Linked DNA regions of Homo sapiens: regions 2, 3, 4, 5 and 6 are each linked to region 1. The links come from fine-mapping of genetic effects on gene expression. A gene starts in region 1. Each other region holds a variant in brackets. All regions are shown on one strand. Distances are from middle to middle. Region 1 holds the start of ADGRD1 (adhesion G protein-coupled receptor D1). Region 2 has its middle 26 kb from the start of ADGRD1. Region 3 overlaps ADGRD1 (adhesion G protein-coupled receptor D1). Region 4 has its middle 28 kb from the start of LINC02414. Region 5 overlaps ADGRD1 (adhesion G protein-coupled receptor D1). Region 6 overlaps ADGRD1 (adhesion G protein-coupled receptor D1).

The links. PIP is the estimated chance that this variant, and not a neighbour inherited with it, causes the effect.
Region 2: its variant is fine-mapped to the expression of ADGRD1 in fibroblasts (GTEx, PIP above 0.99).
Region 3: its variant is fine-mapped to the expression of ADGRD1 in cerebellum (GTEx, PIP 0.97). The same link has a PIP of 0.9 or more in hippocampus.
Region 4: its variant is fine-mapped to the expression of ADGRD1 in whole blood (TOPMed, PIP above 0.99).
Region 5: its variant is fine-mapped to the expression of ADGRD1 in blood mononuclear cells (TOPMed, PIP above 0.99). The same link has a PIP of 0.9 or more in whole blood.
Region 6: its variant is fine-mapped to the expression of ADGRD1 in whole blood (TOPMed, PIP above 0.99). The same link has a PIP of 0.9 or more in blood mononuclear cells, microglia and spinal cord.

Annotation. Positions count from the first base shown.
Region 1 is chr12:130,951,331-130,956,401 of GRCh38, forward strand. It overlaps ADGRD1 (adhesion G protein-coupled receptor D1), which reads left to right and starts at 2,577. Exons shown (of 25, transcript NM_198827.5): 1 at 2,577-3,201; 2 at 3,294-3,330. The coding sequence starts at 3,136.
Region 2 is chr12:130,925,732-130,930,802 of GRCh38, forward strand. No RefSeq gene overlaps it. Among named protein-coding and RNA genes, the nearest start is that of ADGRD1, 26 kb to the right of the region's middle. The variant G/A (reference allele first, on the strand shown) is at 3,100.
Region 3 is chr12:131,029,195-131,034,265 of GRCh38, forward strand. The region is part of intron 13 of ADGRD1 (adhesion G protein-coupled receptor D1); the gene reads left to right. Among named protein-coding and RNA genes, the nearest start is that of ADGRD1-AS1, 38 kb to the left of the region's middle. The variant G/C (reference allele first, on the strand shown) is at 1,974.
Region 4 is chr12:131,617,492-131,622,562 of GRCh38, forward strand. No RefSeq gene overlaps it. Among named protein-coding and RNA genes, the nearest start is that of LINC02414, 28 kb to the right of the region's middle. RefSeq lists enhancers at 94-594, 595-1,095. The variant C/T (reference allele first, on the strand shown) is at 2,801.
Region 5 is chr12:131,093,576-131,098,646 of GRCh38, forward strand. All of the region lies in intron 15 of ADGRD1 (adhesion G protein-coupled receptor D1), which reads left to right. Among named protein-coding and RNA genes, the nearest start is that of LINC01257, 69 kb to the right of the region's middle. The variant C/T (reference allele first, on the strand shown) is at 2,352.
Region 6 is chr12:130,978,696-130,983,766 of GRCh38, forward strand. ADGRD1 (adhesion G protein-coupled receptor D1) reads left to right here. Exons shown (of 25, transcript NM_198827.5): 5 at 3,189-3,368. Among named protein-coding and RNA genes, the nearest start is that of ADGRD1-AS1, 13 kb to the right of the region's middle. RefSeq lists an enhancer at 851-1,841. The variant G/C (reference allele first, on the strand shown) is at 2,716.

The DNA.
Region 1 (5,071 bases):
CCAGGCTGGTCTCGAACCCCTGACCTCAGGTGATCCACCTGCCTCAGCCTCCCAAAGTGTTGGGATCCACCCCTCCGGGCCCACCACTGTTCTTTGTTCTAAATTTCTTCCTGAGGGGCCTGGAGGAGGTCATGCCCACAGGCCAGAGCTAACATTCTTTTTTGCTGATCTCAAATTTTTTGACAAAGCCTTGCCTTCTTAACCAATCACAAATCAGAAAACCTCTGAATCTACTACCTATATGACCTGTGGGCCCCCAGTTCAAGATGTCCTAGCTTTTTAGGTCAAACCAATGTGCAGCCTCCAGGTATTATTCATGTGGGACTTAGCCTGTAACCTCTGCCTCTCCACCTTGAAAAACCCTCCCCCATCAGCCATCGGGGAGTTCAGGTCTGAAGTGTGAGCTGCCAGGTTCTGCTCGCCTGGTGCCCTGCTCTAAATGCCTCACTTCCTCTCACTGCAATCCCGACGTCCATGTTTGGCTTTGCTGCGGGAGGGCAGAGCCAGGCTGGGTTTGGTGACAAACGCTGAGTGCTCACCAAGTACCAAGCCCTGTTCTCGGGGCTGGGGTGCAGAGCGAACAGGCAGAAAGAAGGTCTCTGCTCTCATGGGGCCTACGCCTCGGTGGGGAGAGACTGACAATAAATGAAATAAACGTCTAAGATATGAAGTACATTGGATCGTGGTTAGTGGGATCGAGAAAATACAGCAGGGGAGGGCTTTAGGGGGAGGGAGACCTGCTGTCAAGGTGATGTTTGGGTGCCGAACACCCCGACGTTTGGGTGATGGAATGAGATGCTCAGAGACATCAGAGTTGCTTGGTTCCAGGCCCATGGACCACTCAAGGCCCTGTCTCAAATCTCCAGGCTTCAGGACACGCTGCTTTACATGGAGGCGGGCTCTTCATCTGGGCCTCTGAACAAGGCCTGAGACAGGACGCAGGCAAATAGCATGAGGCACGAGACTGTAGTCCGGGATGGAGAGTCAGAGTGAGTCTGAGGATGAGTGCAGATGCCTGCAGGGCAAGCTCTGCTGAATTGCTTTGCTATCTAGTTTTTATTACAGTCATTGAATCGGGGTGTCTCCCATTATCTGATGACAATTTTATGATGAAAAGAAACCATGCTGGCTTTGTTCGGTCATGGAGATGGGAAAGGTCCGCATATTCAGCAATCTGTTGAATTCTTCCAGGTTAAAACTGGAGCTGAGAAAAACCTGCAGCTGCCTGTCCCTCCCTTCACCTCTTCCAGCGAGAGGCAGTGGGGGACTGGAGAGCTGATGAAATGGCAGAGATAAAGGTTGTAAATTAGTTTTCCCTGAAGCCGACCAGCCTGAGCAACAGGATAAAGGTCGTTATTACAGACAGCCCCCGGCCTTTGGAGTTCACAGTTTCTCCATTGCTAGGAGATGGAACTCTCTGGAACCCTTCTCCAGCTCCACAGAGAGGCTCAGGCTATCAGAGGATCTGAGCGGTTGTAGGCTGCAGGCACAAGTTAAAAATAATCACCTAACGTTTTGACAGCACTTTCTTTTTTTCTGTCCCACAGAGATTGGAAGTCATTTTCTTATCCTCTTTAGGAAGTATGTTGGATTCAGGATTCTTAATTCCCATTTAAAGTCAGGACAATTGAGATAACTGTATCAGCTAACATTTACTGGGTGTTATGTTATACTTGCTAATAATAATCATAGCTAACATTTACTGAGTGATAATTTTTCTTAATAGAAAATAGCAGCATTTACTGAGTGCCACATATTTTCCAAGTACTGCCTGAAGAGCCTTGGATCTGTCCTCTAATTTATTGTTACAGCCCTGAGGAGGAGGAACTATTAACCCCCATTTTGTGGATGAGGAATTCGAAAACTAAGAGAGATCAAGTAATTTGCCTAGGAGCACAGCTGGTGAATGTTGGAGAAAGTATGAAGCGGTAAATATTACTTAAATCACATAGCAAATATAGCTGTGACTGCAATTCTAGGGTGTGTGTCTCTGTGTGTCCACGTGTATTTGGAGTAGATCGGATAAACTTTGGTCTTGGGTAAACTGAGGCATGTCTGGCGAAGGGGCTGACTCTTTTCTATCCCATTGAGAACATCCTCCTGGTGCTGGGGTGGGGGTATATGTGGGATGGTGTAATTGCGCAGCGTACCTTGTAATTAATTCCGTAGCTTTCACTGACGTCCGAAAGGATTAGAGAGAAAAATGTGGTCAGCGCTTAATATGGAGGGCACAGTGGGTGTGCTGCTTTCTCTTTTCCATCCCTCTGTCAACTTCATTCTCTTTTGGGGGCAAACAAGACTCAGATCTAAACAGAGTTTATGGTTTGTTTTGCATTTTGTATTTATTAATATTTATGCCGACTTTGAAGGTGCTGACCAGAAGGCATCAGTAACACACACACGCACACGCACACACACCACACACCATGTCTGTTTGGTTTGATTCTGAGCCTGAGATCCTGGAAATATTTCAGCTGTTGTTAAGAGGCTGGAGTTAGGACCCAGGAAGGACACAGCAGTGGGGATATAAATAGAAAAGGAGAACAGAACAAAGTTTGAGGAGAGAGACTTACATCACTCACTCCCCCTCCACCCAGAGAGCAGGACGGAGGTGTGAACTTGAGCCAGACCAGAAGGAGCTCGAGAGCGGCCGCAGGACAAGCCCGAGGAGCAGGCGGGCGCTCCAGGGGAAAACCACGCACAAAACCTTCTTCAGAGAAAAGGGAAGCTCCAAACCTGACTGAGACAAACGGAGGCTCTTGAAATAAAAAGAAAATACCGCAGGACAAACAGCCTCCCGTCCCCGGGCGCAGGTCGCGGTCACAGTGGTGACCTGGGATTGCTTTCCCAGGACTGCGAGTCGGGTTTGGGTTTCTCCTCCCTGCATTCCACAGCTGCTCTGGTCATCGCAACGTGTTTATTGATCACTGAAGAATCTCAAGTTTTGAGACGAGGAAGAAACACCCATTAGGTCTCCAAGACAGCTGTGTTTCACAAACTTTAAGGAGACAGAAATTTTCTCCCCTGGAACCTGTGAAAATGTCCCTTTTCCAAGGAAGTGAAGGTTAAGAGGTCCCGTTCTCACAGACCCTCAGGAATTTCACTTGGCTCCGAGCTTTGACCTCCGAGAGAGCCATGGAAAAGCTGCTGCGGCTGTGCTGCTGGTACTCCTGGCTGCTGCTATTTTATTACAACTTTCAGGTAATGTCCCCAAGTGGCCAGGATGGCGACAGGCTTGGTTTCTCCGGAGGCTTTCCCTGAGTGTGTCTCACACTGTGGTCTTTTGTGCGCAGGTGCGTGGCGTCTACTCCAGATCGCAGGACCATCCAGGTAAGAGTGTTTCCTTCTCACTCTGAGCACCGCTCTCCCCCTGCCTAGTGCAGGTATCTCAGGAACAGCCCACTTGTTCATCTCTGAGGCATCAGCGAATGGCCCTTGTTGGGCTCCTGGTCCCCGACCTCACTGCCTCACCACACACTGTGACCCTGGGCAGCTCTGCTACCCCTCACCGGCTGAGCGGTGGATGGAGAAGTGGTTCTGGGCCCCTTGAGCTGGGTCATATGAAACATTGTGATTAAGGAAATATGATCTTCATTTGAATGCCTTCTGCCTCTTTCTTTCTCTCTTTCTCTCTTTCTTCCTTTCTTCCTTTTTTTCTTTTTGAGATGGAGTCTTGCTCTGTTGCCCAGGCTGGAGTGCAGTGGCCGCAACCTCTGCCTCCCGGGTTCAAGCAATTCTCCTGCCTCAGCCACCTGAGTAGCTGGGATCACAGGTGTGCACCACTACACCCAGCTTTTTTTTTTTTTGTATTTTTAGTAGAGACAGGGTTTCACTATGTTGGCCAGGCTGGTCTCGAACTCCTGATTTCAGGTGATCCGCCCGCCTTGGCCTCCCAGAGTGCTGGGATTACAGATGTGAGCCACCACACCCATCTCATGTCTTCAGGGCAGATTCACTGGTGGGGAGTTGGAGCTCTGGCCCATAGCAGGGTCTCGGGACCTCCAGCCTCAGAGTGCTGACCAGCTTAGCCTGGAGCAGCCGATGAGTGGGACTCGGGATAGAGGGCCACCCTTGCTCCAGCCCCAGAGCCACATTCCATTGGCCATTGTGACACCCAACCAGGAAGCATCAGGACGGGGCTTCTCTCGGGAAGACAGGGAGGCACACACCCTTCGCTGTTAAGAGTGTGGGCACACGTTCTGGTCAGCCAGGGGCAGGGATGGGAAGACGAGGCTTTCTGGGAGCAGCAGGCAGTCACTGGGCTGTTGCTCCCTGCTGGAAGTTGCAGGAGGTGGGGAGGAGACCCTGCTAGTGCCTGAACCCCTGCTGGGAAGCCTGTTGTGAGCACAGCCTCTGCCCCCGCCCCACCAGAGCTTGGCTGGGCACCCCCCCGAGCGCTATTGTATGGCCCTGCCTGTCTCTGATGGGAAATCAGCCTTTTTAAAAAAATTATTTTTGTTTTTATTTTTTGAGACAAAGTCTCACTCTGTCACCCAGGCTGGAGTTGAGTGGTGAGATCTCAGTCTCGGCTCTCTGCTACCTCTGCCTCCCGGGTTCAAGCGATTCTTGTGCCTCAGCCTTCCAAGCAGCTGGGATTACAGGCCCATGCCACCACGCCTGGCTAATTTTTGTATTTTTAGTAGACACAAGGTTTTGCCATGTTGGCCAGGCTGGTCTCGATCTCCTGACCTCGGGTGATCCAACCACCTCGGCCTCCCAAAGTGTTGGGATTACAGATGTGAGCCACTGGGCCTGGCTGGGAACCAGCCTTTAATGATCAACCACAAATGGACTCAGGCCAGCACTGTGGGCAGATCCCAGGGCGATACCCAGGCCTCCAGGGAGAGCCCCTTTCCTGGATGGAGCACCAGGAGCCTGCTGGGGTCTAGGGCCAGGGGCTGTGCCCTCAGCCTCTGTCTCCTTTCCGGCTGCCCGGCAGCCCCATGCCAGGATGTTCCAGGCATCGTCGCCTCGCCACCACCTCCATTCACCAACTCGGGGGTGGGGACGCTGCCACTTCTGTTTCGTCCACATGCATAGGGAGCTCCTTTTAAAAAGGTGTGGAAGCTGT
Region 2 (5,071 bases), 26 kb before region 1:
AATGAAAAATAAGAGACTTGTGGTTTTCCAAACATAGGCCGGTTTCTTACTACAGAAGGCAGCTGTTTCGACAGGTCAGCTGACGCTGGTCCCAAACAAGCAGTGATTCACAGCATCCTAGGAACTTCATGCTAAAGATAGAGGAGGAGAGAGGTCGGAATCTTGAAGAACACGGCGTTCTTTCATCTGCTATTTTAAAGTCTCTAACTTAGTAAAGAATACTCTTTGTTTTACAGTTCTGCGTGAAAGTAAGGGATATGTTTGGTTGATGTGGTTTGGGAGGAGCGTGCTTTCCCGCCGGGCTTCTCGCTCTGCAAAATGCTGAGATGTTGTTAAGGGTGAATTACACAGATTTGGAAAAACAAAAGATGGATGAAGAATTGAATGTATAATAAAGAAGAGTGCCACAGGCTGGTTGCTTAAAATGAGAAGCCTTAAGATGTGCTTGAAACTTTTATAAAACAGAATTTTTGGCCGGGCACAATGGCCCACACCTGTAATCCCAGCACTTTGGGAGGCCGAGGCAGGCAGATCACAAGGTCAAGAGATAGAGATCATCCTGGACAACATGGTAAAACCCCGTCTCTACTAAAAATACAAAAATTAGCTGGGCATAGTGGTGCACGCCTGTAGTCCCAGCTACTCGGGAGGCTGAGGCAGGAGAATCGCTTGCACCCGGGAGGCAGAGGTTGCAGTGAGCCGAGATCGCACCACTGCACTCCAGCCTGGGCAACAAGAGTGAAACTCCATCTAAAAAAAAAAAAGAATTTTTATTATTTAAGTCATTGGCTGGATACATTCTTCTTGTGAAGATGTAAAATGTCGCAACAAGGCTAGAGAGCTCTTTTTTTAAACTTTATTAATTTATTTGAGACAGGGTCTTTCTCTGTCACACAGGCTGCAGTGCCAGTGGCACGATCTTGGCTCACTGTATCTTCAACCTCCCAGGCTCAAGCGATCCTCCTGCCTCAGCCTCCTGAGTAGCTGTGATTACAGCTACTCAGCTAATTACCACCACACCCAGCTAATTTTTCTATTTTTATTAGCGATGAGGTCTCACTTTGTTGCCCAGGCTGGTCTCAAATTGCTCGCCTCAAGTGACCCTCCCGCCTTGGCCTCCCAAAATGCTGGGATTACAAGCATGAGCCACTGCACCTGGCCTTAATTTTTTTTTAAGACAATGTCTTACTCTGTCACCAAGGCTGGAGTGCAGTAGCTCAATCTCAGTTCACTACAGCCCTGAACTCCTGGGCTCAAGTGATCCTCCCACCTCAGCCTCCTAAGCAGCTGGGACTGTAGAATAGTCCCAGGTACACCCCTGGGCAGTAAAGACCTGTGACTTCTGGCCCTTCTCTCCATTCTCCAGAAGTATATTCTCTTTTGGTTTGCATCCTATCCTTCCAGAACTTTCCCTATGCCTTTGCATAATATGTACCCAGATGTCATTTATGTATATGCTGTACGTAAATAATATCGCATGATCTTAATAGTTCTGTAACTTGTTTCTTTTGTTTTGTTTTTGTTTTCATGTGGCATGTCTTGGAACTCTTCCCATGTTAGTGGCGTGTATTCTATATACTGCCACCCAGGATTGAAAAATATTAATCAGGTTATTTAGGCCACTCTAAAGCTTTTGGAGAATTCTAGAGCCTCAAATTCATACATTTTGACAACTTGCTTCCTTTACCTGGCAATAGGTCATCTTGAATTTCTCCAAGCTTCCTAAAATCCCCATTATTTTAGGAATTTTCCCCTAAATATCTGCAGCAAGTCAGAGTTCCTTCTTGGAAAAATGGCCGCCTTCTCCCCTATGTGGACCCCCTCTTCTACATATTCACTTGCTTGAATTAATGAGTTGCTATTTTCTATTCTATTCCTTACTAACCAACAAGAAAATGATTATGATTTCTCTATCACGTTTGTCAGAAAACTGGTCTAATGAGGCCTGGCACAGTGGCTCAAACCTGTAATCCCAGCATTTTGGGAGGCTGAGGTGGGAGGATCACTTGAGTCCAGGAGTTTGAGACCAGCCCTGTGAACAACATAGCCAGACCCTGTCTCTACAAATTAAAAAATTTGTAGAGACAGGAGGTCGAGGCTACAGCGAGCCATGATCACACCACTGCACTCCAGCCTGGGCGAAACAGCAAGATCCTGTCTCAAAAAAGTAATAATAGGCCAGGCGTGGTGGCTCATGCCTGTAATCCCAGCACTTTGGAAGGCAGAGGCGGGTAGATCACTTGAGGTCAGGAGTTCGAGACCAGCCTGGGAAAGATAGTGAGACCCCTGTCTCTACAAAAAATAAAAGAATTAGCTGGGTGTGGTAGTGCACGCCTGTGGTCCTGGCTACTGGGGAGGCTAAGGTGGAAGGATTCTTTGAACCCAGAAGGTTGAGGCTGCAGTGAGCTGTGATTGTACCATTGCACTCCAGCCTTGGTGACAGGAGACCCTGTTTCAAAAAAGAAAAGAAAAAAAGAGAAAAGAAAAGAAAAGCTGGTCTAATGACATAATTAAGACAAGTCAGAGAGTGACTCCAGGCTTGGCACTATTTGTAAACATCCGCAGCAAGGAAAGGGTCTGAATAGAAGGGCAAAGCTGAACCCCAGGATGTCACCTGGATCCAGCTGTGCCTGCAGCCAGCATCACCACTGGCCTTTCCTTCCACGGACCAGTTTGTTTTCCTTCTGCTTCTATCAGATGGGTTGGTAACTGACATAGCCCTGACAGACAGGGCCGTAGTGTCAGATCCCATTGCTGTCTTCTCATGCCTCTTTCCGGTTTCAGCATCTGCCAGGAGCTTCTGTTTTTCCTTCTTGGATGCTCTGCCTCTGTTCTCTATTTATTCCGACCCTGCAAAGAACCAAAAACGTCACAATCTGTACACAGCGTAAATCATTACTTGTCTGACTGCATTCATGGTTACTGTGTGTCCTTGTGTATTAGTTCATATTTGGCTTAGGTAACACAGCAAAACACACACACACAGAAAACAACAAACCCAGCAATGCTTCGTATTTATGCAGCAATAGCATCACTTATTTGGCAACACATTTTTGCCATGGTTTTAACTCTAGTTTGTGGGGAGTGGCATATGGAGAA[G/A]TTTCACTCCTTCCTGAGTTTTCTTGTACTTGTCATTCTTGAGTTCCTGCCAAAAGTTTACATCTAATTGCCCCGACGTCATCCTTCCTTCCCCTCAAATAGAAAAAACAATGAGTCCTGGAATTTTTTTTTTTTTTTAAACAGGGTCTTGCTTTATCGCCCAGGCTGGAGTGCAGTGGTGCGATCTCGGCTCACTGCAACCTCCCTCTCCTGGGCTCAAGCGATCCTCCTGCCTCAGCCTCCCAAGTAGCTGGGACTACAGGTGCATGCAACCATGCCTGGCTAATTTTTATATTTTTAGTAGAGACGGGGTTTTGCCATGTTGCACAAGCTGGATGTAAATTCTTACAAACCTGTTCCCTGCACATTTATTTTCTCATTCCACACGACTGTCAAATTGGAAATTCTCCCAAGATGCTTCTGACTGTATCAGGCAGAGTGGAGTGTGAGTGGTGCTGTTTCTCTCTTCACGAGGACACGGCTGGGTGTCTTGGCCACCCATTTTTATTCTTTGTTACTGCGACCGAGGAACAGGGACTATTGTCAAAAAGACTTGAGCAAGGTCGGACTAGGAAGGTTTTTTTTTTTTTTTCCATGGGTTAAAGAAAGAAACATTCTCTTGAAGATGCTATGAGATGGGAAGGTTTCCAAAGCCTTTGAATAGCTGCACATGAACTCATCATAAAAACGTAAAAATAATCCTCTTTGTGGTGCACGTGATTGTGAGCCTCTGTGTCTGTCTGGGATGCGAGTGTGAGAGAATTGAGTTAGAGGTGACCACAGGTCACGTGTCTGGTGATGATAATGTCTTCACGGACCACAGAATATAATATCAAGGTAATGAGAAACTCTACTGTGCACTTCTTTGTTATAAAATATTTTTCTTTCAGAATGTTTAGACATACGGAAAGGACGTGGTGGAGTGGTTAAGAACGCAGGTGCTGGAGTGAGGCTCCCTGCATTGGAACCTTTAATCCTCCACTCACAAACTGGCCTTGGGGAACCTACTTTACCTCTCAGAACTTCTGTTTCCTCATCTTTAAAAGAAGGTTTTAAAAATAGTGGCTCACTCTACAAAAGAATTTTAAAAAATTCCCTGGGCATGGTTGCACATGCTTGTAGTCCCAGCTACTTGGGAGGCTGAGGCAGGAGTATGACTGGAGCTCAGGAGATCAAAGCCGCTCTGAACTGTGGTCACACCACTACACTCCAGCGGGGGTGACAGAGCAAGACCTGGTCTCCAAAAAGTAAAAATAAAATAGCATAAACTTCCTAGGGTTGTCCTAAGGAATCAGCAGATGCCTGCAGGTTGGCACTCGGGGCAGGGTTGGCACAGGGGGCTGCCCCACCAGTGATCACTTTGAGGATGAGGATGACATTGTCTCTGATCATGAGATGAAGATGGTGAAGGAAGGGGATGGTGATTTAACCTTTATTAAGACTTGGCCCCACTGGACAGCCTGCCTGACTGAGGAGTCTCTCTCTCTATAAATTCAGAGACACAGAGCCTAAGAGCAGTCTAAAAGTATGCTCGTTATTAAAAATCTCAAAAAGGTCATGGTTTCAGGTGTGCGTTCTCATCTTCCAGGATGAGCTAAAGCTTCCTCATTCCATGCTTCCTCTGTGGCACTTACAGGTCTGGGTGTGCTCAGTCCTCTGGATGTTCAGCTCAGCAGCTGCACAGCTCAAGGTTATTTTTCTGCCAGAGGGAAACAAGGTGGGCTGCAGACACAGTTCTGATTTTGGAGCAGGGTCGTGTGCAAGGGTCATCCATTCCCACTCATTTACTGGCTGTTCCTGCAGGTCTCAATGAGACGTGTGGCTGGCTGCACAGTAGCTGCCAACTGGCTCTGCTGGTTATAATCAATGGTTCAGCCTTCTCTCTCTCTTTCTTTCTTTCTTTTTTTTTTTTGAGACGGAATCTCACTCTTGTTGCCCAGGCTGGAGTGCACTGGTGCGATCTTGGCTCACT
Region 3 (5,071 bases), 78 kb after region 1:
CGTTAACTCATTGCCTGCTGCTGTAATCTACCAGGCTTATTTTTATATTGACTATTATAGTCAGTGCGGATGAACACTTGAACCTGCAGTGCGAATCCGTTCCCCTGACCCCAGCCTCTGTGCCTCCCCCTCCTCTGCTCCTGCCTCCCTCTGTCAAGATCCTTGGGATCACACTGGATACATGTGGCTAATCCAGGATCACCTCCCACCTCCAGACGTTTAATTTACCCACATCAGAAAGGTCCCTTTTGCCATGTAAAGTGACATTCCCAGGCTCTGGGGTTAGGTTGTGGGACTCTCGTACGGTGACATTCCCAGGCTCTGGGATTAGGTTGTGGACCCCTCGTTCGGTGACATTCCCAGGCTCTGGGGTTAGGTTGTGGACCCCTCATGTGGTGACATTCCCAGGCTCTGGGGTTAGGTTGTGGACCCGTCGTAGGTGACATTCCCAGGCTCTGGGGTTAGGTTATGGACCCCTCGTATGGTGACATTCCCAGGCTCTGGGATTAGGTTGTGGACCCCTCGTTCGGTGACATTCCCAGGCTCTGGGGTTAGGTTGTGGACCCCTTGTTCGGTGACATTCCCAGGCTCTGGGGTTAGGTTGTGGACCCCTCTTAACGGTGACATTCCCAGGCTCTGGGATTAGGTTGCGGACCCCTCGTTCGGTGACATTCCCAGGCTCTGGGATTAGGTTGTGGACCCCTCGTTCGGTGACATTCCCAGGCTCTGGGGTTAGGTTGTGGACCCCTCGTTCAGTGACATTCCCAGGCTCTGGGGTTAGGTTGTGGACCCCTCTTATGGTAACATTCCCAGGCTCTGGGGTTAGGATGTGGACCCCTCTTATGGTGACATTTCCAGGCTCTGGGGTTAGGTTGTGGACCCGTCGTAGGTGACATTCCCAGGCTCTGGGGTTAGGTTGTGGACCCTTCATACGGTGACATTCCCAGGCTCTGGGGTTAGGTTGTGGACCCGTCGTATGGTGACATTCCCAGGCTCTGGGGTTAGGTTGTGGACCCGTCGTAGGTGACATTCCCAGGCTCTGGGGTTAGGTTGTGGACCCGTCGTAGGTGACATTCCCAGGCTCTGGGGTTAGGTTGTGGACCCCTCTGGTGGAGGGTGGGGATTGTGTTTTGTCAGCTGCAGAGGGTAAATTAAGAATCTGTGGGGAGCCCTTCCAGACTGTGCCGCTGAAATTGTTGGGGCAGTGGCTCTATCTCCGAGAATGCAGCTAGATCTCAGAATGCATCCCCAACGTTGCAGCGTGCGCAGGCCCTTCCTCCTGAGGGCACCCACCTTGGTGAATGGGATTTTCTGTATCCAGTTGTCTCTGCTCCAGTTGATGTGGCAGACACAGGGTCAGACAGAAGCTTGCTGGACATCGTCCCTCCCCTGAGGCCAAGGCCGGACGAGGGGTCTCTTCAGCTGCACATCGGGGCAGGTGAGGGGTGTCAGCCACGTCCCGGGGAATAGTAGCCTGCCCACCTCAGCAGAATGGCGAACTCGCTTTCCCGTGGCCTTTGGCATCTGTAGCGTGGATGCCATGGAGTGTGGCGCGTGACACCTCAATGTGGCACACTGAGACTGTAAAGAACAGAAGACACCAGTACTTTAACCCGCGGCTGAGGGCTCATCGCTTTGAATACGCCGGGGTGTGCAGAGCACAGGTCAGCTATTGTGTAGGAGAGACACTGAGCCGCATCTGCAGCCTGTTGTTCTGGGGTCGCCTTGGTTACAGCCACCTCTGTCACAATGTGCAGTGTGTCGGAGTCTCCTTCCAGAGGAGCACTCGCCCACAGCCAGGGCCCCCACCGAGGGCCGCTCTTTTCACCAGGGTTTCTGAACAGGCCACATGGGAGCCCGGAACGCAGGAAGGGCAACACCTCATCCCAACTCACCACACTGGGCCCCGGGGAGCCAGGGGCTGGGCGGTCTCAACTCTGAGCTCCACTGCCGGAAGCTCTGCTGCCTTGGGG[G/C]GTCCTGTCGAAGCTGCTCCCTGCCTCCCACCCTCCCTTCCTGCGCCATGTCATTTGTTGGGGGCTCTGACAGCGGAGCCCACTCACGTCTGGGGCAGCCTTGGGTACTGCGTGCTGCCCTGGTGCGGCTCAAACACTGGACGGTGGCCTTCATCCCTTTAGGCCTGGCTTAGCCTCTTGCAGGTCTGAGCCCAGGTGCAGGAGAATTCGGGGAGACTGTGGGGCATGACTGGAATGGGGTGAGTTCTGACCTGTTGCTGGGATGACCATTTACACAGCTTGAGACATAAATGCAGTCCCTCACCCATGCGGTTCTGTCGACGAGTCACCCATTGCTCACAGCTTCTCAGATTTGCGTTTGTCGGTGGTTTTCCCAAGGTTCCAGGATTAGCAAACACGGCCCCCCCACCCTTCCTTCAGGCCTGGTCTTAAACCAGGTCACCCACCTGCCCCTCCCCTTGAGGCTGCAGGAGTTCTGGGGCCCCTCTCCACCATCCCATTGTACTGGACCCCCAGGGCCACCTCCATGGATCTCTGTGTCTTTGATTCTTGTGCCCCCAGGGTTGGGCCTGGGTGTCAACACCTTGTCTCCCCAAAACCTCAGGAAGTGACTTGGCTTCTCCCCAGGGGCCAGCTCTGCATACCAAACATCCGGGTCACTTCTGCCAACACTCGGAAACCCTGAGAGGTGTCATTGCCTCGTCCCCGCACATGCCAGGTGCCTACCTGCCTTCCCTGTGGGAAGCTGGGGAGCCATTTGTGTCTGTTTGGTGAACTGCTGCCCCGGAAGGGAGGCCTTCAGATGAACCAGCCTGACTTCTCTCCTATCGCAGCCTCCACCCTTGGCTCTGGGGTTCCTGCCGCTGTGCCCCACAGATAGAGGGGGTGACATTGCTTTCCAAAATGCAGCCCTTAGCCCTGAGACACAGCCCAAATGTCCTTCTCCAAGTGTCAGGCACCAGCTCCAACCCTGTCCCCCGCAAGGGGCACACAGGGCTCCCCCAGGCTCTACTGAAGCCCTCTCCTAGGCTACACAGGCATTCAGTAGGCGGCAGACGTTCCCTCTCCACCCTGGCGGTGGAGGCAGAGCTCACAAAACAGCTCTATTCAAAGACAGTCTCACAGGTCCACAGCTTATTGTGCCACTCGCGACCCCGCCTAGATCCTCCACGAGCACGAATCATCTCACGGGTTCTGACGCCTGCTTTGAAAATTCAGCGTAGTAGGAGGTTTCACAACTCACTTTGGTACCCTGGAAGTACATGCGATGCCTCCGCTGACACGTCCCCCACCGCTGTGTGGCCTTTTCCCCGAGTGTTCTTGCTGCAGGCCCGGGTGCCAGCACCTGCACACGAACTCTCGGCTGCCCTCTTAGGACAGCAGTGAGCGGAGAGGGCTCTGCAGCTCCACGTGGTTGCTCACTGTGCTTCCTCCAGGGCCCCTCTGCTTCCTCTCCCTATGGTGGGGCAGTGACGATTATGCTTATTAGAGAAATCACCACCCCGTCACAGAGATGACATTTATTAGAGAAATCGCCACCCCATCACAGAGATGACGTTTATTAGAGAAATCGCCACCCCGTCACAGAGGTGACGCTTATTAGAGAAATCGCCACCCCGTCACAGAGGTGACGCTTATTAGAGAAATCGCCACCCCGTCACAGAGGTGACGCTTATTAGAGAAATCGCCACCCCGTCACAGAGGTGACGCTTATTAGAGAAATCGCCACCCCGTCACAGAGGTGACGCTTATTAGAGAAATCGCCACCCCGTCACAGAGGTGACGCTTATTAGAGAAATCGCCACCCCGTCACAGAGGTGACGCTTATTAGAGAAATCGCCACCCCGTCACAGAGACCACTTCATTTGCAGCTTCCTCTCCTCCCGAGCTAAATGGCGCGCGACGAGCCCCGCCCTGCCCTCCAGGACATTCATGGCTCGTGCCAGGCAGTGCCCTGGGTCTCCTGCATGCCCACCCTCCGTGTGCAGACCAGGCTGGCCCTGCCCGAGCTCTTTTTTTGTGCGGGCAGGGCCGTTGGGTGGGTCCCCTGTAGCTGTGTCCAGATGGGATTGTCTTGTTTTTGTGTGGCAGGGGCTGGGGTGGGGTGGGAAGGAAGGACTTCCAGGCCGGAGGGGTTTCTAGAGCTGGTCATTGCTGGGGCCAGGGTGCCCTTCCATCATGCACCCCACAAGCACTGCCCAAGCACCACATCTGTGCTCAGCACCGTCAGAGCCCTGGAGGCACAGTGAGCAGGACAGGCGTCCACATGCGGCCTTCCTTCCCGCTCAGAGCGTGGCATGCAGGGTTGGGTTCCTTATGTCTTTTCGGAGCCCCCTGAACGCAGGGAATTCTTGTCCTCTGCTGGGCTGGGTTGCGCAGGTGTGCAGTGACGGAGGCAGCCAGGCAGGTTCTCAGTGAAGACGGGAGTGTGTGTCCCTCTTGCCTTGGCTGACAGGCCTGGGTCCCGGTGGAGTGGACTGGAGCCGGCCCTGGAGGGGCAGGCCGTGGGCCTGGGTGGCCACAGGGGCTTGCAGGGGCACGGGATGTGGTGGTTGCCAGGTCCCTGGAGCAGGTGCCCAACCAGGGCTGCACAGCCGTGTGTCCTCTGTGGTCATTTCCACGGCTGCTGCGTCTGCTAGGGGGAAGCAGCTTCCCTGAGCCGCGTGGGTGAAGGCTGGGGACACGTGGTATCTGCAGGATCTAGGTGTGAGCGTCTGTGCATTTTCACGGCACTCCTGGCAGGACAGAGCTCCACCCTCTGCCAGTCCTCCCCGGGGGATGCCGGCTCCACCTGCAGCTCACGTCCGATTTCCACCGGTACCCATCGTCACCATCACCAGCCTTGCCCCTGGTTTCACTGTCTACCCCGGAGGCCAGCGCCAGCCTCCCAGCCGCCCCCAGCTGCACACAGCAGCCAGAGTAATATTCGACGTGGCCGTCAGGTGGTGTCACCCTGTGCTCGAACCCTCTCGGGGCTTCCTCTGCATTTCAAGTAAGATCTACACGCCCTTCTTCCCCTGCCCACCCTGCCGCACTCTGGGCCACTCCCCGCCCATTCCACTCCGCTCCCGCCATGCGTCTGCCTTGCTCTGCGCCAC
Region 4 (5,071 bases), 670 kb after region 1:
GACCACAGCAGTCCCGCTTGCCTGAGAGCTCCGAGTATGTCCTGGGAATGGAGGCGACTGGGGCGGGAAGAGGAGAGTTTGTTTGGGAGCCTCATAGCTTTAAAGACACTGTTGACATCCTATGGTGTTGGCTACGTGGAGGAGTCGGGTCCGAGACTGTGAGGATGAGGGGGTCCAAGTGCCATGTCCTGGGAGCAGCTACCTGGGGGCTCACGGGATCCTTTGCAGGGGGCCGGGGCCTCCCCTTACTTTCTCGCCAGCACCGATGCCCTTGTTTCTGATATCAGCCCAGGGATCCCCCCGTGCCCCTGGTCTCTGAAGTTCAGGTAGGGCTCAGGCTACCCTGTGTACCCTCACACCATGGCAGGCACGTGTTCCAGGACAGGCAGTCGGAGTTACAGTGGCCAGGGCGAGGGAGCCACCCTCCAGGCACGCAGGGAGCCAGGCTTGTCCTGTGCACCCTCCCAGCTCTGGGTCCTGTCCCTCAGGGCCTCTGATTTGCTGGGCCGTTTGTGCTGCTGTGACTATTTGGTGGGCCCAAGTATGCTGGAGAAATTCTGGATGCCATCCATGACTAATAACCGGGCAGTGCACTTGCAGGATGCAGCAGCTCCTGGTGCCACGGCCGCCTCCCACACCAGCCCCTGGGGAGTGGAGAGGCCTCCGGGTGTTGCTTCTGCACGTGCTGTTCATGGACATGTGGCCTGGAAAGCAATTCAGGTTTGCTCTTGGTGAGCCTCGGAAGCTCCAGGCGGCCGCTAGAGTCTCAGACGTCGCCACCCACAGACCTCTTGGGTTTTGCCATCTTGGCATAAACAGCCTCGGTCCCGACCCCTGCCCTTTATTAAGCCCTCTTCAGTTAACCCGTCGTGTCCCTTCTGACTGCTGGGGGACTCCCTCAGATACAAGCTGTCTCCTCCACTGGAAGGTGAATGCCGTGAGCGCGGGGCCCTGGTTCAGCACCAGAGACAGCGCTGGCACCTCAAGAGACTCAGTGACATTTGCTGAATGAGTGAATGGACAAACGATGCTTCAACTGCGCAGATGCCATCCGCTCTTTCAGGAGCCTGGTCTTCCCACTTTAGCGACCATCTGAATCACGTGGGAGGCTGCAGAGACGCAAGAACCTGGGTCTCTCACACTCCATATTCTGATCCCAGGGTCTGGGCTGGGACCTAGGAATTTGCATTTTTACCTAGGCTCTCATACAGGCTTCTAATCTGATAGATAAAGTCTTCAGGAAGTCAGCCTCTGATAGACAAGTGCTATCCTCGGAAAACAGCATACACAAAGCTGAAAATAATTTCCCTTTCTGCCTCCTCCAAGGCTCAAGGCTTCTGAGAAACTGCTCGAAATTTTCTCAAAATGCATGCTCTATTTTCCACTCTCCTCCCCTCTCTGCATTCCATTCAGCCATCCCAAGAGGACCCACATGAGTCGCTGCTCCTTCGTTTCCTTATTCTGGAAACTCCTAAGACATCCTCTCTACACTGATGATTTTGCAGAGCGAAGGAGAAACAATAAACATCTTCCAGAAAGAATTTCTCAGTGACTGCAAACAAGGAGTGAGATTTGCATTCGGGGGGGCTGTTTGCCCTCAATGTGGGGAGTCGGCAGTGTCAGAACTTGGCAGTGACCCTGAAGACGTGGACAGGAGCAGATGGGATGTTTGACTTCACCTCCCTTTTGCTCCCCGATGCATTTCAGTGCAGGCCTGGTGTGCTGCACCAGCTGCGTGACAGAGGAGGAGACGAGGAGGAGGTTCTTGGGCACAGGAGGAGCGGGGCTGGGGTGAAAGCAGCCAGCCAAATGCAGGGGGTGCACTCAGCGGGGGAACCCAAAGTGTGTGGAGAAGAAAACAAAGTGCTCTCCAGGACCAGCCCTGCCCACGGCCTCCTGGCCCTCAGGGGGACTCACAGAACTGGCTCAACAGGTGCACACAGATGTGCACACACATGGGCACACAATGCATATACACATATGCATGCACACACAGAGACCCACGCACGCAGACCCAGACATACATACATGAATGCATATGTGCAGACACGTGCATGCACACAGACACACACACACACACACACGCACACAGTACTGGAATCACCACAACCAACATGCCACCTGCTTAATCCTGTTCGAAAGGACTTTCCTTGGCCTCAAGTTTTTCCACACCTGCCACACTCTGCAAACCTCCAAGAAGCCAGACCCCCCACAATTGGACAATGTCTGGTTCCTCACAGGAAGCTGCCATCACACATCTGGACAGCAGTGGGGCTCACCTTCTGGGAAAGCCTGCTCTCCTGCTGCAGGGGGAGGACTCACCAGACCCCAGAGTGGGAGTGTAGGATCGTGAATGCTGCAGAGCCCACATAGTCTGATATCCCGGCGGAGCAGGATCTGCTTCCTGGCTGGTGCAGCCACTGCCCAGCTCTCCTCTGCCCCTGCTCCACATGTGTGTCATCTGGGCTGTCTTGGAGGCAAGTGACAGAAAGGGGGCTTCACCAACGCCCTCACCTGAGCACCCTAAGAAGGGGCTGGCAGCATCAGGACAGGCCCAGGCTCAACCCTGCCCTCAGACAGAAAGCAGCTCAGCGGTTCCCCAGCTCAGACTCCGCAGCCAAACTCAATGTTCAAGACCCAGCTCTCCCACTTTCAAGCAGTGTGGCTTTGGTGGCATTGCTTAACCTTTCTGGGTCCCGCTCTCCCCGTCTGTGAAACGATCATGGTGAGGTGCCGTGGGGCTCTGATGAGGTTGCCCACGCCAGTACACACACAGCAGGACTTTGTGGATGGCTGGCAC[C/T]GCCCGGGCGTCACCCTCACCCGGCCCTGGCCGTCAGCTCACCATCCTCATCTCAGGCCCCCTCCTGTGCGGCGGCAGAGACAGGGCTGCACGCGGCTTCCATGGGCCCTGGGCCCTTTTGCATTCGTGGGCTCCTTCCTCCATAAAATCACCTTTAAGCTTCTATTTTACAACTGGTACAAAGATGAATAGGTTAATATTTCTTTGACCTAAGAGCTCATATTTTCTTCTAATTTTAAAAGAAATTAAAACATTTTTGTAGCCCTGGAAATCCTCAGGGCTCTTGCACTTTGCCTGTGTCCCTGATGGGGGAAGGCGGCCTGGAAATGGCCCTCAGAGAGCTCCTCTTAACTGAGCAACTGCGAGGCAAAGCCTCCCTTCCCCAGGGGTTTCAGAAAAAGTCCCGGGCACATTCTCATTGGACCAGCTTGGGTCACATGGCCATGCCTGAGCCAATCCCAGGACCACAGTATGAAATATGCTGATTGGGAGGCGTGGCTTCCCACCTGTGAATCACGTGCACCAAGTAGGGGTGACCTGGCAGAGAAATACAGAGACAGGCAGGTGAGTCCTGGACGGACCCTAGGGACATCTGTTGTCCCCCTCAGGACCACATAGCAGAGCATGATACGGTGCCTGTCCACAGCCCAGGGACCCTTTTCAGCGGGTGGCAGAGCTGGCTATCCGGGGAGGGGGCAGAAGTTCCAGTCTGGTGCACCGAGAGCGCCATCCCCTCACTGCAGCCCCGCCCAGAGCCCCAGGGCTGAGGCCAGACTTAACCGCTGGGACCCAGGCCTGCCCTGGGGCCACCTCCCAGGCCAGGCTCTGTTCCTCACTGGGGCACTGTCCCTGGGGGAGGCGGACACAAGGGCCCTTGTTGTTCCTGGAGGAGGAGGCGGCGGGGAGAGCTGTGCAGTCACTGTGGGCTGAGCCAGCACTCTCCATCCTCCCCAGTCACTCCCAGGATGGCCAGATCCCTCCCAGGCCTGGAAACTGCTCCTCAGCCTCTCCCCGGGGCAGGGGAGAGGGGGTCAGGGCTCCCCTGGACAGGGAGGCCCAGCATGGCCATTCCCGCTCACGTGCCCACTGCACGATTAACGCGCATTGCAGCAATTTCCAGGCTGGCGCTCACGAACGGTGCCGCTAAGAGCACTTTCTGGTGAACACACATGCCCCTGTCTGTGGTGCAGACACCCCGGAGTGGAACTGCTGGGTCGGGGTAAGTGGATCTTCAGCTCTGGGCGACGCTGCCGGGCTGCTTCCCAAGTTCCAGATCCACCACACCCCCAGGGGGTTCCAGCCTGCAGCGGGGGCTGAGACCCACAGCTCTGCTGTGTACATGAGAACACACACAGGCACATGCACACCTACGCGCATGTACACACATGCACTCACACGCACACGTTTCCTGAATTCACACACATGATATGTGGGCTGAGGCTGTGTACACACACATGCACATGGGCACACACAGGCACGCACCAAGTGTACACTCACATTTCCTAAGACCACACACGATACGTGGCCCAGGACTGCGTACAGCTGGCATGTCTGCTTGCCTGGGCAAGAGCCACAGCCTCCTCCTGGCTCTCCTGCTGCCGCAGCTCCTGCACTCCACGGAGCCTCGCCTGGCCACACTCCCTGCACGGGGCAGCTCAGGAGCCTCGGCCTCTGGCAGGAGAGGCTGCAGGGTAGGGGCTGGCGGGTGGCTGGGGTCCCTGTAGTCCGGCTTTTTTCCCTCCTCACACACTGCTCTCTGCTCTCCGCTTGCCTGGCCCCGAGGCAAAGGGCCCAGGGGTCGCTGGTGAGGAGGGGCTGCAGCTGGGCTGTCCTGGGGGAGGGAAGGAGATTATAAAAGGCCCTCAGAGAGCTACACAAGGTGGCCTTGTTTGGGGAACAGCCTCCCCCAGCCCAGGGTTCCCTCCCACGTGAGCAGGAAGGGGTGGCCCAGGACCTGTGGTCAGGAGGCCTGCCCTGTGTGGCTGGGGTGGGGGTCACTGCGGGGCTATTTCTAGCTCCAGCCTCTGCCCCGCAACAGGGGGTATTGGGCGAAGCTGTTTGCAGTCTGAGGCATCCGGCCCCCTGGCCCTCCCTGCAGCTGTGACCTCACCAAAAACAGAGGCCACACTTCTCAGGGTAGGAGGGGCCAGAAGGCCCAGCTGTTAGGGTAGACAGCTGAGGCCCCAGCTCCCTGGGGGACCCGGGGCAGAATGACCTTCCTCTACAAGCTTCTGTGGCTCCCCATTGATATGCAGGGGAGTCCATGCCTCT
Region 5 (5,071 bases), 140 kb after region 1:
TCTGAGCTGTATTTGCGGTCCCGAGGGTGTGTCACAGGCGGGACTGTGCCAACTGCAGTGCCGGCAGCCGCAGCATGTACAGCTCAAGTCAGAAACAGGCTCCCTCCACGGGGTCTCTGTGTGAATGTTAGCCAGACCACCTCCCAATAACACCTCCTGCATGCAGCTGGGGTTAGTAGTGGCCCCTCTGCCTCCCAGCCAGCTGGACACACAGGTCCCTCCCAGTGATGTGCCAGGTGGCCTTGGGCAGGTGCCTGCTCTGAGCCTCAGTTTCCCCGCTGTGACATGGGTGGGACCCTTTCCTTGTGGAGCTGTGGTGGTGATGAGGAGGCAGAAGTAAGCACAGCTCAGGCCCAAGCACCCAGCCTCAGCAGCACCCAGCCTCAGCACCCAGCCCTGAGCACCCAGCCTCAGCACCCAGCCCTGAGCACCCAGCCTCAGCACCCAGCGTCAGCACCCAGCCTCAGTCCCCAGCCTCAGCACCCAGCCTCGGCACCCAGCCCTGAGCACCCAGTCTCAGCACCCAGCCCTGAGCACCCAGCCTCGGTACCCAGCCCTGAGCACCCAGTCTCAGTACACAGCCTCAGTACCCAGCCTCAGCACCCAGCCCCAAACACTGCCTGACAGAGTGAAGTCACAGTGAGCCATGAGTATGAGGTCCCTAGGGATGTCCTGGCCCTGAGGACCCCTGAGAGTGGAGTGGGAGTGGGGTGGGGTGGAGCAGGCCTGGCTACTGCACCTGGGACTGCAGCCATCCCAGCATTGACCCGTTCATGGCCACAAGTCTCCTTCCATTCACTCTTCATAAGGAAGGTTCAGTCCTGTGGCTGTGGGCACCGGGGCAGGACGGTCTATTGCCCTGTTGATGGGGGTGGGGGTAACTGTGGAGGCTGGAGGGGCTCCAAGGAGAGGCCCCTCCACCCATCCCTGGACCCCTCTAATCCTGGAGGCAGAAGAGGGTCCTGCCTTGCCCAGGAGTAACAAGGAAGTTGGTTTGTTCAGCAGCGCCCCCCCGACTCCCCAAGCAATACTGTGGTTCACCAGTGTCTTCTGGCTGAGTGGGGAGGGCATGCATCCTCAGTACCATCCTCTTAGAGACCCAGAAAATTGTCACCATCCCTTCTGATTTCCCAGCCTGTGCAGTTCTTCCAGAAGGAGAGGGTGGTGGGCAAAGCCTGCTGGGTCCTTCTGCATGGGCTCCTTACCATTCCACCAGCAAGCCCTCCAGGTGCACGGGTGCACGCTGTTCCCGCCCCGCCTTACAGATGAGTTTTCCTGAGCCCTGTCCTGGGCTGCTGAGAGCTGGGCTGGGGATGGGAGCTGGGAGCTCACCCGGGGGAGGCGCAGGGGCATGCGTCCTTCCACCCCCTCCCGTCTCCTGCCCTACCCACCCCTTCCCATGCCCCTCCAGTCTCCCTCGAGACGCCCCCTCTCAGCCCCCAGGGCCCTCCCCTGTACCCTGTGGCCTGTGCCTCTCTGAGTGGAGAGCTGAGTGAGCCCTGGGAACAGGGCTGACACCTGCCACCCCCATCTCTCCCTTCAGTCCCCCCGACTCTCAGGCTGCTGGCCACCTGGGACATTGGGAAATGGGCCTAAGAGGTAAAAACCTGCACTTCGAGGTGGAGCAGCAGCCAGTTGCTGCCGGGACTCAGCTTTGCTGTCAGCTCAGCCCCAGCCCTGCCTGGGCACCTTGCAGTCCTGGGGGCAGGGAGACGTAGCTTCAAGGTTCTGAGGGTTCCACCCCTGCCCCTCTTGACAAATTCAATTGCCGTTGCCTCCTCCAACCAGACCCAGGCTGCTCCTTTTAGAGGAGAAGCATATGTTGCTTCATTTATTCCCTAATTCTCCTGAAGAAGTGTCTGCTCTGGAGTGTGCTGGGCTGGAGCCGCTCTGCAGAGGGAGCTGCAGCAGCCTCTGGGGTGGTCCTGTCTTGGGGGATCTTCTTTCGGGGCTACCCTCAGAATTGGGGTCTTACTCTGTGGGGCTGAGGGTGGGCCGGGTGACCAGGACTGGGAACATGGTCAGGGGCCAGACTGGACGTTCCCAGGGCAGATGGACGCATAGCCCGGCCGAGGGATCGGGTCGCTTTGCGGGGCAGCTGTGGGCTGCAAGGCTGTGGTCAGGGCTTGACGTCTGAAGCAGGCCAGGTTTCTGGTCAACACGTATTTTTTGTCATGAGTGTGTTGAATCTTGGGAATTAGAGTGGGGATGTGGGCCGTCTTTGAGAAGCCGCCAGCCCCCGTGTTAGGAGTGGGACAGGAGCTCGAGGGTTCTTTTTGGGACATACAGGAAGCTGGGGTGTCAGGAGACAGAGGGGTTCTGTAGGTTGAATTGTTTGTAAAGATGATACA[C/T]GCATGTGGGAAAATGCAAGAACACAGAAGGCAGAGTGTGGAAACTGACGGTCACGGCCACCGTTCCCGCCTCCCAGCCCTGCCCAGAGCAGCGGCTTAGGGTCACGGCCACCATTCCTGCCTCCCGGCCCTGCCCAGAGCAGCGGCCTAGACACGCGCTTGCTTTTCTGTCATTCCAGACGCAGTTGCTGAGCCTGGGGCCCCGCTTTGCTCTTTGTTCTTTTTTTGTTTGTTTTTAAAATTTTCTGTACCTCAATGGATGCAAACCTTCCTTTAAACAAAGGGTAGTGAAGCATAAAGACTGCACCCTTTATTTTTATTTACAATTTATTTGTGTTAGAGACAAGGTTGCACGCTGTGGTCCAGGCTGGAGTCAGTGGCGCCACCTTGGCTCACTGCAGCCTTGACCTCCTGGGCTCCAGAGATCCTCCTACCTCAGCCTCCCAAGCAGCTGAGACTAGAGGTGTGCACCACCATGCCTGGCAAGATAGCACACTTTAAAAAATGTATGCACGTATCTTGGAGGTTGCTCCTTCTCAGGGTACACAGAGCCACATCTCCCGTGTTAACCACTGCATAGCTCTCCCGCGGGTGGACACTGAAGTCATGGTGGTCTTTGGCCGCAGCAAATAACCAGCATCCTATGCACACATCCCGCCTCCATCTGTGAGGATGGGTTCCCGTGGGGCACTGCTGGTCCAGGTTTACATCCCGCCTCCATCTGTGAGGATGGGTTCCCGTGGGGCACTGCCGGTCCAGTTTTATATCCCGCCTCCATCTGTGAGGATGGGTTCCCGTGGGGCACTGCCAGTCCAGGTTTACATCGCCACAACTGTTTAAAGCAGCCATCGTCTGGGGCACAGTGGGGACTCAGCCCTGAGTTCCCAGTCATGTTGAGTCCTGGGTTCTGCTCTGAGATCCACCTGCCTCCTGCTGCCCGGCTCTGCCTCCCACGGCCGACCACTGTGCTGAGTTGCAGGTCTGTCACTTGGGGCAGGTGATGGGAGGGGAGGAGGCCCAGCAGCTCTTCTCTCGCCCCTACACGTGGCTTTTTGGGCAGTGGCCACGCCTCTGCTGTGGCTGCAGCCCTGCTGGACAGTCTATGGATCTGGCTTCCACGGGGGGATTTGTGGCGAGGCTCATTCCTGGGCCACCTCACTACCCCTATGAGGTCCCCCTTTCTCTCCCCTCCCGAGGGTTAGCAATTCCCTGAGTCAAATGTTCCACTCTTTGAAAGGCTGGAGTGGTTTCTGTTTTCCCAGATGGCCCCAGACTGATGCACAAGCTGTGCGGCCAGGGGAGACAGCAGGAGCCCCCAGGGTTCCTGGTCTGGAAAACAAGAGGGTGATGGTCCCCCCAGCTGACACTTTCAACAAGGTCACTGTGACCCGAGGCAGGCCAGTCCCAGCATCTGTTCAAACACACAGCAGCCCAGCTGGGTCCTCGGGGAAGATCTCCTGCCTGTGGCCAGTCCTCTCCCGTCCTGCAGCACCCCTCAAGTGGCCAAGCAGCTCATTTCTACCTGTCCCCGGGCTGTCGGTTCATTTCCATCAGTGGACGTGAAATGTGCCAGCAACTGGACCCAGCCCGGGGGAGGCTGGCTGCATGCTGCTGGCACATGCTACGGCTGCCTACGGCCAGGGATGGCCGCCAAACCAGGGATGCCTGGAGTCACAGATCCGCCAGGGCCTGGTCACTCGTGCTGTCCAGGAGCCAAGGGCAGGAGTGCAGCCCAGCCAGGGGCTGAGGGCTGCCCTGAGGGGAGACAGGCCCCGTGAGAGCCTGGATGCCAGCCGCGGAGAGACCAGAGACAGGCAGGAGCCAGCCTGGCCGGGACAGGGTGGGCGTCAAAGGTTGGGGAGCAGATGGTTGGTTCAAGGGCTGGTGTGGGGGTGGAGTGTGGACCTAGCCCGGAGTTCCTGCTCTTGTGCCCGGGAGCCCATCCTCTGCTCACCCTGCTCTCTGCCCTACGCTTGGCTTCCTGCCAAGTCCAACCAAGGAGAGATGGTGCTGCTGGGGTGGGCGAAGGGGCCAGCCTCCTGCCTGGGCTCCTGCTGGCATGGGCGTCCCCCTGTGGCTCCAGCGCCTGCATGCAGACCCTCCCCTGCACCCCCGCGCCAGCCTCACCTGGGCAGGCTGGTCTGGTTCCAGTTTCTGCTGGTGGCCCGGCCTGGCTCTGCTGCTGTCCCCTCTCCCACTGTCCTCCCGCGGTGGCCGCTGTCTGGGCCTCACTTCCTTCTCCCGCAGTGGCTGCTGTCTGGGCTGCCTCACTGCCTTCTCTGCTTTTTCAGGGCTTCCCTCACCTTCATAACCAGCTCCCCAAGTCCAATCCCGAGCGGGGAGGGTCTTGCTTTCCCATGATGAAGGGAGAGGGTGGATGGAGGCAGGTCAGAGGCACGGGCTGGGGCTGGAGCATGCGGGGCCTCAGAAGCCATGGTGGGGGAATGGGGGTTTGAGTCTGAGACTCAGGCGCTATGGAGGGGGTGAGCCATGAGGGACGAGGCTCCAGTGTACAGCGGAACCCAAGCCAGGAGGGACATGGTAGAGGATGGGGCTGGTGCTGTGGGGAGACCAGGGAAGCCCAGGAGGCTGAAGAGATCAAGGCAGAGGCTCTAGAAATCCATCAGAAAGAGGATTGGGACAGATGGCCAGTGGTGAGAAGCCAGCAGGACTCGGAGGTGGGTGCTCCAAGGGAGAGGGAAGGGCCTGGGTCAGGGCCT
Region 6 (5,071 bases), 27 kb after region 1:
CACCACATGGAATTTTTTTATTTTTATTTTTCTTCCTGAACAGAAAGACATTTGGCCAAGACAGGCTCATTTTGAATTGAGTGAAAGAAATTTTAAAATGCAGCAAAGTTTTTGGAAAAAATTAACTTCCATGAATCCTACTGGGAATTTGTTTCATAACAAAAATTTCACAACGCACTGTGCTGACTTCCTTGTGAAACGGGTTGTTTCTGAGTGTGCAGGGAAGTGGCGGGAGGCTTGGGGGTTTGTCCTGGCTTCTGTACCCCTCAGCGCCCAAGGCAGGGAAGTGGCGGGAGGCTCGGGGGGTTGTCCTGGCTTCTGTACCCCTCAGCGCCCAAGGCAGGTGTTGCAGGAAGCCCGTTCATGAGGTGGGTGTGGGTGGTGCCAGCCAGGTCTGGGGACACCAGCGTCAGCTGCCCCAGGCCTCTGTGCAACCCCCACAGTCGCACCCTTTTGCGGTAACCCACATTACTGGGCACTCGGGAAGGCTGTTTTCTTTCCCAGGAGCCCTAAGGACAGATGCCGCAGGGCTTGGAGTTGTACCCCGTAGCCTCTCAGAGGTCCAGAAAGGTCCAGGCCTCTTCCAATTTTTTTGAGGTTCTTCTTCTCTTAAAAAATAAAATGGGGAAATTCCATACCAGGGTTATAAAATGTATGCTGTGTTTTTCCTGAATCCTGCGAGGGCTTTGAACTCACAAAGGTATAGTTGTCTTGATATATTGTCACAAGACATTTGAAGGACTTCTAACAGATATGTTAATTCATAAGGCATCACAGAAAGCATGGTGGGCAATGAGACACTGCCTTATACACGAATGACAAATGTCTTCTTTGAATTCAGTGACTCTCTAAGACTGTGTCCATAACCTCATGTGAAGGTAAGGTCTAAAGTCTAAATTTGGCACCATTTATAGAAATAAAGCCCAGGGCAAATATCCTTCTGCCTCTCCCCTGCACCCACCGTCCCATCATGGGCCTCTTTGGACCAGTTCTGGGCACGTGTTCTCTCTCAGCACCACTGAACCCTCTTACCCATGTGCCTGGGCCAGGCTTGGCGGGGGTGAGGCAGCTGGATGTATTTCCAGCTGTCAGGGGCAGAATCCAGACAGGCAGCTAGTGTCTCACACACACACACACACACACACACACACACACACACACACACACTGGAGTTTACACACAAAGAAGGGCCAGGTGGGCAGATGCTACTGGAGGCAGAGAAGTGGAATAGAGACAACCAGAGCTCCAAAATGCAACGCCAGAGAGGCCCAAGCTCCACAGAGCCTCCAGCCAGGCCCTGCCCTGACTTCCCCTTCAGCAGAGAGCCCGGCCCCCAGACCAGTGGGTGTGAGTGCAGAACAGCGGTCGGGGTGGGTGCGGGGCATGCTCAGGAGCTGGGCTTTTGCGGTTCCTCTTTTTTTTTTTTTGAGACGGAGTCTCGCTCTGTCGCCCAGGCTGGAGTGCAGTGGCACAATCTCGGCTCACTGCAAGCTCTGCCTCCCGGGTTCACGCCATTCTCCTGCCTCAGCCTCCTGAGCAGCTGGGACGACAGGCACCTGCCACCACGCCTGGCTAATTTTTTGTATTTTTAGTAGAGACGGGGTTTCACCATGTTAGTAAAGATGGTCTCGATCTCCTGACCTCATGATCCACCCGCCTCGGCCTCCCTAAGTGCTGGGATTACAGGCGTGAGCCACCATGCCTGGACCCTCTTTTTTTTGAGACAGAGTCTTGCTCTGTTGCCCAGGCTGGAGTGCAATGGCGTGGTCTCGGCTCACTGCAACCTCTGCCTCCGTGGTTCAAACAATTCTCCTGCCTCAGCCTCCTGAGTAGCTGGGACTACAGGTGCATGCCACCACACCCGGCCAATTTTTATATTTTTAGTAGAGACGGCATTTCACTATGCTGGCCAGGCTGGTCTCAAACTCCTGACCTCAGGTGATCCACTTGCCTCGGCCTCCCAAAGTGCTGGGATTACAGGCGTGAGCCACCGCGCCCGGCCTGCAGTTCCTCTTATAGTAAAAACATGGAGAAATCCCACATGAGGATCATAAAAATTACATTGTTTTTCCATGTTTACATTGATCACAGTAGGACTTTGCACCCACAAAGGTACAATATCTAATTGTCATAATTTACTGTAATATACTGCCACAACACATTTGAGGTATGTCCTATCTGCTGCTGGTGGCGGAGGCAACATGAACTAATGAGCCAGCTCATTCATGCTAACATGCGTCGCTCAGACCATTTAGTCCAGGTGCAATCCCTCCTCCCCCGCAGCGTGGGCCTGGGGTCAGGACTTACCACGAATGTGCAGACTAGAGTCTTGAAAAAGGTTTCAGCTGCTGCCCCCTCTGTATCCAACTGCGGGAAATGAACAATTGAAGATATCAACAACCTTAAAAGTGTGCTTCCCTTTGGCAAGAAATGCCCTCTTGGGAATGTATCCTAAAGGCATATAGTCTGAGATATGCAAAAGAATTTGCTTCAAGTTCTGTTTGAAAATTTCTTCAAAAAGTGGAAGAAAACCTTAAGATCCAGCAACAGGGGATTGCTGTTTAAAAAAAAGACTGTGGTGCTTGTTTAGAATGCGCCGCTGTGCAGACATAAAAGTGACAACGTGACAGTGTATTTATGGACATCGGAGGAAGTTCACGGTGGAGTAAACTTTATAGAAATGTTGTTTATAAACCAGTGTGCCTGAGATGGTTC[G/C]TGTCTTTGTAAAATCTATTTATAGAAGAGGCTTAGGAAGGAGCCGCCCTAACCACATTTCTGGAGGAATAGGAGAGAAACCTGGAGGGTGTAGGTCTTCACATTTGCATGATCCCGGGGAGTGGGGGCGGGGAACTGCCTGGGGCTGCAGCGATCTTCATCAGTCACTGGTGACCTTGAGTGAATGAGCCTCAGTTCCTTCATCTGTATAGTGGGGATGAAGCAGGATTTTTGTACTTTTTAAAAGGCGAGAATTCATTTCAAACTCCTAGAAAAGTGCCTGGCACTGTGTGAGCCCTTAATAAACATGAGCAAATATCACTGTCTGGATTTTCTGAACTGAACATACACTGCCTTTAGAATGGGGACAAAATGCTTTTCGAATGAAAAATAAAAAGCAAAGAGAACCATGTGCTTGCGAGAAGTCAAGTCCCCTGCTCTCTGTGAATAACTGATCTTGTGACTTTCCTCAGGGGTCACGTTTTCTTTTTTCTGGAAGACACAAGGAGAACAGTCTAGACCAATCCCTTCTGCGTATGGGGGACAGGTCATCTCCAATGGGTTCAAAGTCTGCTCCAGCGGTGGCAGAGGCTCTGTGGAGCTGTATACGCGGGACAATTCCATGACATGGGAGGCCTCCTTCAGCCCCCCAGGTGAGTGACAGCATCGGTCCCGGGAGGCTCTGCCTGGAGGAGTGGAGTCTTCTCTGAGAATGGACGCTGAGAAGCCCAACGCAGCCCAAGGAGCCCAGGGATGCTGCTGCCTCCTGGCACCCGAGCTCCTTTCCTTTAAGGGTTGTTGGGGAGGTGCATGGGGAGAGGCAAGGAGGTGCCCTTGGTAAGCCGCCTTTGGTTGGTGCAGAGCCTGGGCTCCGTCTGCCCGTGCACTGTGTGCCTGCTGTAGGTTACCTGACCACACTGACCTCAGTGATCACACCTGTGATGTGCAGATGATATTGACAGTACTTACCTCACGGTTTCCAGGACATTAAGCTGAAGATATGGTGTGCAAAGTGCAAGCAGTGGTTACATTTCTCCTTCTTTTCCTTCTCATTTTCCCTCTTCCTCCTCATCTGCCTCCTTTTTCTCTCACAGTCTTTGTCTCTTCCTCTTTCTCTTCCTCCCCCTCCTCTTCTTCCTTCTTCTTAGTGGTATAGACTTGAAATTGTTTAAAGCATGACGAGAAGAAGCTTTTGGAGAGAGAGGCTGAAGAATCGGGGAGCAGAGGAAGGGGCTAGGGGAGAGCGCATGAAGCACTGGACTGTGCGTGGTCTTGGAGGAGGGAGGGGCCCTGGATGTGTGGGAAGAGAACAGGAGTCCCTGCACATTGGCTGAGTTTGCAGGTGGGTGTTGAGACATGGACGTGGGGCAGTAGGCTGCAGAGGCTGACGAAGGTCTGAAGTGGAAGCTGGAGAAGGGGAACAGGTGGCTGGGGACACAGAAGGACTCAGGGTGGCATGGAGTGGGGGCCAAGTCAGGACTGGAGCCCAACAAGGGAAGGGCAGAGGTGGAGGGGGCAGCACAAAAGCCTAGGATGATCTCCTCCGGTAGGAAACATCTTTGATGTATTTAAGGGAAATCCATTTTCTGGCTCATTCTTAAGGGAGGCTGCATGGCCCAGTTATTAAAAAGCGTGAACTCTGGACCCAAACAGGCTGGATCAAATCCCGCCTCTGGACGTTGGTAGTTGTGTGAACCTGGGCACCTTCCCTAACTGCCCTATGCCTCAGTTTCCTCATTCATAATATGGCAGTAATAGCAGTATCACATCATAGGGTGACTGTGAGAACTAAGTGGGCTGCTAGGCATAAAGCGTGGAATGATGGCACAGTGGGCCCAGAAGGTGTTTGCCTTCTTCTGTGGATGCTCGGTGTGCTCGGACCAGCTTGTACCTCCACCTCTGTAAAGTGGGGCAGTTCAGCAAACATCTACTTCAAATTTGCCCTCTGTGATCCCTAAGGTCAGAAATAATCTCTGCCTCCCTCCCCTGACACAGAACCATCTGAACCTTTTCCGTGACCTTCCTGTTCCACTTGCTATCAGAGTCCGATTGTAAGCAGCTTATCTCTCTGCTCCTTGGGGCTGGTGGAACGTGGTTTCAGGCATCCATTAGGTTCTTTGACCTTGAACAAAGGTAAAGTATGCTCAACTCTGGCTGCTTTTCCACCCAGGGAAAGGGCGAGAATTAGAAACACTTCTGGCTGGCAATGTGCTCTCTTTTGTGCATTGAAGGCGTTTGTTATTCTTACTTTCAAACTCAGGGGCAATAATACTTTGGACCAACCTAGGGTCCAAGCGTGCTCCAGAGACTCAAAATTATCAGAAAGTTGCACAATCTTGAGCAAGAAGCCCTGATG